Linked DNA regions of Homo sapiens: region 1 is linked to region 2. Evidence: fine-mapped expression QTL. A gene starts in region 2. The other region holds a variant in brackets. All regions are shown on one strand. Distances are from middle to middle.

Region 1 (4,396 bases), 83 kb after region 2:
GCTTTTGCTGGTTTATTCAAAGAAGAAATTCATTAAAGGATATAAGAGGCTTACAGAATCTCAGGGAAGGCCAGAGATGAAGTCTGAGGCTATTCATTTAGAAACCAAGCCCAAATCACACTGTGGGGTCACTACAATGAGGACAACACTATTGCTCAGCATACATATGGTGCTATCACTGATCATGTGAGGGACTGGACCACAGAAGCTGTGCTACTACGGCCTCCTAAATCTCAATACTTTCATTACTTCAGTCATTAAAATATGGATTTGGCATAGTGTCTGCCTTCTCATGTGATTCATTTCCAAACTGAAGTCTCACATATGTCTGACTGGTAGAGCTAGATCACGTGCTTAAATCTGAGCAGCAAGGGAGCCTGGGAAAGTGAGTTCTGGCTTCTTTCTTGGAGAAGATCGACTTATAACATGTTCACAAGATATTAGATGGTTAAAATGTCTATAACATATTATGACATTACTCGTCTCACATAGCAGCTATCTGCAATTAAAAGGAGAGTGAAAACACGTTGATCAGGCACTGTCTCTTTCTTTCTTGTAAAATTAAAAACAAAACAAAACAAAAAATGTTTAGAAAGGGAGGAGAAATATCCCTAATTTTGGCAGGCCCTAAAAGAGATTGTATGAATTTACTTGAGTTATTTGTATGAAGTTTTAAACATCTACCTATTCATCTTCCTGTTCTGTAGCTAAGCTAGCATGCTAATAGCACTGTAGTATTAAAGAAGCTTTTGTGATCGGCCTGGGAACCATCACTACTTGTAACATTGTGCCAGGAACAGAGACAGCAGCAACATCCTGGACGAGACTTTCCACTTTGTGATTGATACTTTCTGCTAAAGCCCTAGTCATGCTGACTGGAAGCTATCTTGGCAGGATAAAAGGTCATCACTGGCATTAAGGATCTCTTTAGGTTTCAATAAACAGAATCCATTCAAGATAACTTACCCTAAAGAAGGACATTTATTATAAGGATACAGAGCTATCTCCTGGAATGCAAGGGTAGGAAGTTCAACCTGGCCCCATGAGGGACTAAGCCAGGACTCTGAAAACCCTCAGAAACTAATGGAAAGTGTGTCTGTCTATCTGTCTGTCTGTCTGTCTGTCCCAGCATCTTTTGCATGATTTGTCATCTCTGCTTCTCTCTAAACATCTGCTTCATTCTTTTCCTCTGTACAGACTGATGTCCTCTGCTTTTACGTATATGGCAGAAAATGGCTACTTCATTCAGTCCTTACATGTCCTTTCTGTTCAAGAGCCAACAAAGGCAAATGGACATTTCCAAGTCTTGACTCCAAATGCCTGGGACAGAGAATGCCTGTACTGGGTTGAATAGTGTATCCCCAAAATGTATGGTCTACTTGGAACCTCAGAATGTGACCTTATTTGGAAATAGGGTCTTCACAGGTGTAATTTATTAAGATGAGGTCATACTGGATTAGTGTGGGCCCTAATCCAATGACTGAGGTCTTTATAGGACGACAGGCATAGGAGAGAATGCTGTGTGAAGATAGAGGAAAAGATTGGAGTTACCCTTCCACAAGTCAAAGGATGCCAAGGATTACCAGGAACTACCAGAAGCTAGGAGAGAAGAGTGGAACAAATTTTCCTTTGGGCTTGCCATAGAAACCAATCCTGCCAACACCTTGATTTCAGATTTTCATCCTCTGGAACTGTAAGAGAATAAATTGCCGTTGTTTCAAGCCACCCAGTCGTTGTCATTTGTTATGGCAGCCCTGGGAAACAGAGAGAGTTTCTTTGGCCCAACTGGGTCCAATGTCCACCTTGTGCATTCACCTGGTTTAGCTATGGCCAGGGTGGAGGGGTCGAGCCAGACACTGTGCAGAAGAATCTCTAAGAAGGGGATGTAGAAGGAGCAGGCAAATTGATGAACAGATATAATAATTTTTTTTGTGCTTCCTTATAACCAGAGGTGTCTGTGGGTACCTAGCAGTGATCAGAGGGAACAGCAGGACCCTAGATATAGTTCCTAATCATTAGTACTTTAAGAACAACTTACCTCTTGCTATTTGTGAAATGGGATTGCAAAGATACCTTGCAAAGATACCTGATTCTGATGGCCTTGTCACTGTCTTTGACCAATAGA[A/C]TGCAAAAGAGATAGGTGTCTGTTCTAAACCTAAGTCGTTTTTTTTTCTTTTTTTGACAGGGTCTGGCTCGGTCGCCCCCTCCCACCTCAGCTTCCCAAGCAGCTGAGACTACAGGAGTGTGCCACCATGCCCAGCTAATTTTTATACTTGTTGTAGAGATGCAGTTTTGCCATGTTGCCCAGGCTGGTCTCAAACTCCTGAGCTCAAGCAATCTGCTAGCCTCAGACTCCCAAAGTGCTGAGATTACAGGCGTGAGCCACCCCGCCTGGCCTTCTAAGCCTACGTCTTTAAGCATTGCGTGCTTTCACTTCTTCTCTTGGAACCTCGCTGTTGTCATGTAAAAAACCTCAGCCTGTTGCATGATTAAAGGGATGTGACCCAGTTACTTCCTTTGCCCCAGTGACCAGTCAGCCAATGACCAACATGTTAGTGAGGTCACCCTAGACCAACCAGGTGACTGCAAACACATGAGCAAGCCCAGTGAAGATCAGCTGAGTCAGGACCAGGTCAACACAACCACCTAGCTGACCCATAGACTCCTGAGCAATATTAAAGGTTGAGTTACTACATCTTAGAGTAATTTGTTATGCTGTGACAGATAACTGATACAGGGAGATTGACAATCTGGATTTTGGTAAGCCAGATATTAGAAAAGTAAGGATAATTCATTCATAAATAAAAATAATTCCTAGGTTTCATGTTAATAGCTGTATCAACTTGGGCAAGTTGTTTCAATTTCCTCATCTGATAACTGAAGTTAACAAAGTAGATTCTTTGGGGTGGGTTATTGGGCAGAGCAAATGGGAGAAAGTATGGGGCAGCACGTTATAAAACAGCAGGTTGGCATCATTTCTCTATACTCTGTCCTTTCTTTATTATTAAGGTTGGTACAAAAGTGATTGTGGTTTTTGCCATTGAAAGTAATGACAAAAACCACAATCACTTTTGCAGCAACCTAATAAGACATGAATAACTTTAGGAAATAATGGCATGGGTGTGTTTTATAAAGTTGAAAGCAACTTGATTTTTACCATGACCTAGGAGACCTTACGTGATCTGGCTGCTCAGTTCTCTTACTTTCCTACCTCTCTCTGTGTCCAGATCAGGGGTGTCCTCTCTGTTCCTCACACATGCCACATGCCTTCCCACATGAGAACGTTTGTACCTGCAGTTCCCTCCACCTGCGATAATATTCCCACCTCTCTCTCTCTCTCTGTTTATGTGAACCACAATTCGGGAACAGTATACTTATAATGCAAATAGGATCATGTGAAGTAGCACTCTTAGTAATTAATGTATGTTCTCTATTTTGAGTCAGAGCAACCCAAAAGATAAGTAAGGAAAAAAAAAAAACCCTTTGTCTTCTCCTATAGAGTCCCTTTAATTCACGAATCAGAATCTTGAGCAACCCGGGAGAAGCATTGTGAGTTTCATGAGAGCTGGTCAGGGGGCCTTCAGAAAAGATTGTTTCCCAGTCATTATTCTCTCTTTCTTTCCCCCCTCTCTTGCTTTACTGAGATAATTTTACATCATAAAATTTAACTGTTTTCAATGTACTATTCAATAATCTTTTTCGTGTATTTACAGAGTTATACAACCACCATCACAATCCAATTCTATCATCCCCAAAAGAAACCCCATACTCGTTTACAGTCACTCTCCATATCACCCCCAGCTCCAGGCAACCACTAATCTACTTTCTATGTCTATATATTTGTTTTTCTGGATGTTTTCTAGAAATGGAATTATACAAAGGCACACCTCTTTTAATGGCCTTCTTGCCTTATTCTTTGCATCTCAGCTGAAATGTTACCTCCTCTTTCCTTAAACTTCACTGTTATTCTGCGTGTCATCTCCTCATTGTTTTTTGGTAGAACTTATGCAATTTGTAATTATTTTATTTGTTTCTTTACTTGCTTCTGCCTGCCTATGCTACTAGAATATACTTTTTCTGAGGGCAGGGGCAATTTCTGTTTTACATTCTACTGTGTCCCAAGACCTACTTAGTGCCAGATGCAGAGTGGATGGATGTCCGGTAAATATTTGCTGGTTGAAAAAAGTTTTTAAAAAGTACTGGGGCAGCAGGATGGTGGAATAAGAGGCCCTAGACTCTCCTTTCCCCCAACAAATACACTGATTCAACAACAATTCATGGACAAATTCCCTTTGTGAGAAATACAGAAACTAGTTGAGAGGCTCTTTCACCCTGGGTGAGTGCAAAACTTGACACATCAAAGCCAGTAGGAAAATTTGACGCCCTCTCACCTCAA
Region 2 (4,396 bases):
GCATAGTGAAACCTCGTCTCTATTAAAAAACAAAAATAAAATAAAATAATAAAATAAGCCGGGTGTGGTGGCAGGCGCCTGTAATCCCAGCTGCTCGGGAGGCTGAGGCAGGAGAATCGCTTGAACCCGGGAGGCGGAAGTTGCTGTGAGCGGAGATCACGCCACTGCACTCTAGCCTGGCCACACAGCGAGACTCCATCTCAAAAAAAAAAAAAAAGTAAAATGCAACAATCCCTAGACAACAAATACTAGGGAGGCTGAGGCAGGAGAATCGCTTGAACCTGGGAGGCGGAAGTTGCAGTGAGCAGAGATTGCGCCACTGCACTCCAGCCTGGGCGACATTGCGAGACTCCATCTCAAATAAAAACAAAACAAAACAAAAAAAGATATGCACAAGAGGCCACTTAACAAAAATATTGTTGTACCTGAGTGAGTTAGAGAAAACGCCACACTTTGAGACGAATTAAGAGTCCATTTGTTTAGCCGGTGGCCAAGAGATGGCTAACGCTCAAAGTTCTCTCAGCCGGAAGAAGAGGCTAGATTTTCTTTTATACTTTGGTTTAGAAAGGGGAGGGGAGTCTAGTTAAAACAATTTTACAGAAATAAAGTAGGCAAAAAGTTAAAAGGATAAATGGTTACAGGAAAGTAAACAGTTCCAGGTGCAGGGGCTTTAAGACTATTTATTACAAGGTGATAGACTGGGGGCTTTGGGTGCTATCAATCAGACGAATTCCTGGGAATTGCGGATATTGCTCGCCACAGTATCTTATCAGTTAATTGCATCTTGGATGTGCTGGGAGTCAGCTTGCACAAGTTAAGTTCTTGAGGAAGGGGCTGCCAGTGAAAGAGCCAAGATGGAGTCTGTCTGGCTCTCTTAGCTAAGCAAGAGTCAATTCAAGTGGAAACAAGGCTAGGTGATCAGAGGAAAAAGGGAGAGTCTAAAAACAGGGTTAGTAAAAACAAGGTTGGGCATTACAATATGGAGTCCGGGAGACAGGCTGGTGTGAGCTGTGATCGAGCCACTGCACTCAAGCCTGGGCAATAGAGTGAGACCCTGTCTCAAAAAAACAAAACAAACAAAAATATGAAAGTACGAATCTGGAATTAAAAAGGGAAAGAACAGTTTCTGCAACTGGGTGGAAATTCTGGCTCTGGGTTCTGGGTACTCAAAGATGAAGGAGAAGCAAATGGAGTGACTCTTGATTTGCTTGATTGAGGGCCAGCTGTGTGAAGGAAGCTGTATGTGGTAAATGGTGTGGAAGAAAGTTTCCTTTCAACTCAAAAATGCTAAAATGCTCAGATTCTGCACTACTCGTGTGTTGCTTGTTTGCATTGGGTATCTGACATTCCTGCATAGGTAGCAAACCGCAATCTGAACTACCTGTTATTCTAATACAGAGGGGTCAAATACATATATTTGAAGGCGTCTAGGGGCACAAATTTGGAGGCACCTAGTCGTAGATTGATCACTGGTTTGCCAGTTGTTAGTTGAGAGACTTTAACATATCCTAAATATGTTTCCTCATTTGAAGAAGGAAAATGATAATCCATGCCTTGTTGGATTGCTGTGAGGAATAAATGAGATTTAGTGAAATACCTGCCTGACATAAGGCAGTAAATGCCAGATGAATATAAACTCATTCTTGAAGGTCAACCAGATTAGTAGGGATTAGGACAGCATACATCATATTTGAACTATTTGCTCTTTAAAAGAGATTTTAGGCTAGGTTTCGTGGCTCATACCTCTAATCCTAGCACTTTGGGAGGCCGAGGAGGGCAGATTGCTTGAGCCCAGGAATTCGAGATCAGCCTGGGCAATTTGGGGAAACTCCTTATCTATAAAAAATACAAAAATTAGCCGGGCGTGGTGATGTGCGCCTGTAGTCACAGCTACTTGGGAGGCTGAGGTAAGAGGGTGGCTTGAGCCCGGGGTCGAGGCTGCAGTGAGACTAGGTCATTGCTACCACACTCCAGCCTAAGCGAGAGAGAGACCCTGTTTCAATAAAATGAAATAAAATAGCTTTCACACTATTTCAACTGATCTTTACAACAAGCTTGTGCCCTAAGGTTAGTCATTTCTGATAAGAAAACTGAGGACCACCGGATTAGGTGGCTTGTTCACGGATTCTGTTCCCCTACTCCTTTCTAGTTTGTGAGTTGGGACTTTAGTTTTTCTGAATCCAGGTGAATTTTCGGAAGCCCACGTGCTTTCGGCCTTTATTAATTAATTCATTCCCAAGCCAGGTTCGCCTGACCACACCTCGAGCGCCGGCCCAGTGCTTGCGATCTTCGTGACGGCACCTGGGGTGTAAGTACTGCTTGTGGGAGAGCCCCACAGGAAATCCAGAGTATTGCGCATGCGTGCTGTCCAGAAGGCGCTTGAACTCGGCGGCTTCCGTAGCGGGAGGGCGAAAGATGGCGGCGGCAGTACTGGGACAGTTGGGTAAGGATTTCTTAGTGGTTAAGCGACAGAAGGGAGTCGAGATGGAATCTGAGTTGACGGCTTGTGTTGATGTTGCAGGTGCGTTATGGATACATAACCTGAGGAGCCGGGGGAAGCTGGCCTTGGGGTGAGTCTCTCGCTTCGGAGTTTCGGAAGGGCCCAAGGCATCTTTAGTATTCTGCCAGTTGGTAACTGAGCGCCTCCGTGCCTAACTGTGTTTTAGGCTCTGGGGTTACTGAGGCGAATGAGACAGCCCGAGTCTCTGCTTTGTCACTCTATTTTTTCTCCACCTTATTGCATAAACTGTACAGGGATCAGGATTACCCATAACCCAAGGGCGATTGTAAATGCGATTTCCGAACGTCTACTGTGATCTTTCTGGACAAGGTTAGACTATTCCATCTCCATATGGAAGCGTCCAACTTTTCAAGTTACCTCTCTGATTACTTGCTTACATGGGCAGGGACCGTGTTGTGGACAACTCTGCTTTACGTCGTACCTGACATTGTGTTTAGCGGTTTATATGCTTTAACTCACTCTCATAACATTCTACGAGTAGGTTCTGCTATACCCGTTTTTCAGACAAGGAAATTGAAGTCCCCAAACGTAAAATAACTTGCCTAAGGCCACTCAGTTGTAGGAAATTTTGAAGCTTTATACCAGAGCATTCTGTAGCCTTAGGACAAAAGCATTCATTAAAGGTTAGGGTAAGTAGTCGCTGTATTTCTCCCCAAAATAAAAAATCGGTATTTGAAAATTGATAATCTGATTGTAAATTTTCTGGTCTGTCCATTTGTTAGCATTGATTTTGGTTTAGTTCATAGGCTTTGCAGACAGATGAGTTGTATATGAATCCATTTTTTAACTGTGATCTTGGAAAAGTTACTTATTCTTAATAAGCTTCAGTTATCACTTTTATGATATGAGCGTTATGTTAGTACCTATCTCTTAGGATTTAAAAAATTTTTTAATTTTTATTTATTTATTTTTTTAGATGAAGTGTTGCTATGTTGCCCATGCTGGTCTCAAACTTAAGGGCTGAAACAATTCTCTTGCCTCAGCCTCCTGAAGTACTGGGATTACAGGCACATGCCATCTATGTAGCTCTAGTAGATTTTAAAAAGGAAATTCAAACAAGATAATGCATATGAAGTATTTAGTATGTTTATGGCATGTGATAATCCCACTCTGAATTCTAGTTGCCATTAATGTTTTTATTATTATAAATTATTACTGAGTTCCCAATTATATTTAACCCTTTTCTAAGTTTTTGGGTCCGAGGGGGATAAAGAGGTGGGCTAAAGAAGAAAATAGGAAGTAGTAGCTCTTAGGATTTGTCTGTACTCTTCTTAGATAATCTTCTATCACTCTTCCCCCAACCATGCTGATTTACTTACTTTTTCTGAATATACTTTGCACTTACTTGCTTCTTGGCTTTTCCTACTATGCCCTCACATCTTGTCTATAACAGCAGTCCTACCCATTATTCAAACCTCTGTTCAGATGTTTTCCCTTCAGGAAGTTTTCACTGGTTTCTCTAAAACGGAAAGAAATTAGTTTTTCCTTCCTTTTAGCATGTGTGCCTTCTATGATGACTTCATGTATATGTGTATGTGCCCTTTACTAGCTTGTGTATCTTGGAGAAGTAGGGACATTTATTTATTGTTGTACCTCCAGCATAAGGTCTTACACAGGCAAGTATTTTGATGTTGATTTGAATTGTCTTGCACCAACTTGTATTAAGAAGCTCTGAGCAAGAAACTTAAGCAGTTTGCCTTTAGTCTTTTCCTCTATGTCATGATACAAGAGTGTTTGATTTTGCTAGATAATCTCTAAGGCTATTTGCAATTCTGAAGTTATTACATAATTTTGTGAATCCTTATTTTGGATTTTCTAGTGGGGAAAATGACCATAAGAAAACTAAGTAGAAAGGTATAAATAATGTTCATGATA

Direction of the effects. Alleles are on the strand shown, and positions count from the first base shown. SD is a standard deviation of normalised expression in the study named.
As copies of A replace C in region 1, the expression in coronary artery of the gene that starts at base 2,378 in region 2 goes down (small effect, 0.23 SD a copy in GTEx).

The links. PIP is the estimated chance that this variant, and not a neighbour inherited with it, causes the effect.
Region 1: its variant is the best candidate, but not a certain one, in a credible set for the expression of MRPL22 in coronary artery (GTEx, PIP 0.79).

Annotation. Positions count from the first base shown.
Region 1 is chr5:155,021,711-155,026,106 of GRCh38, forward strand. No RefSeq gene overlaps it. Among named protein-coding and RNA genes, the nearest start is that of KIF4B, 10 kb to the left of the region's middle. RefSeq lists an enhancer at 2,459-2,753. The variant A/C (reference allele first, on the strand shown) is at 2,126.
Region 2 is chr5:154,938,696-154,943,091 of GRCh38, forward strand. MRPL22 (mitochondrial ribosomal protein L22) reads left to right here and starts at 2,378. Exons shown (of 7, transcript NM_014180.4): 1 at 2,378-2,443; 2 at 2,522-2,570. The coding sequence starts at 2,416. RefSeq lists an enhancer at 2,318-2,477.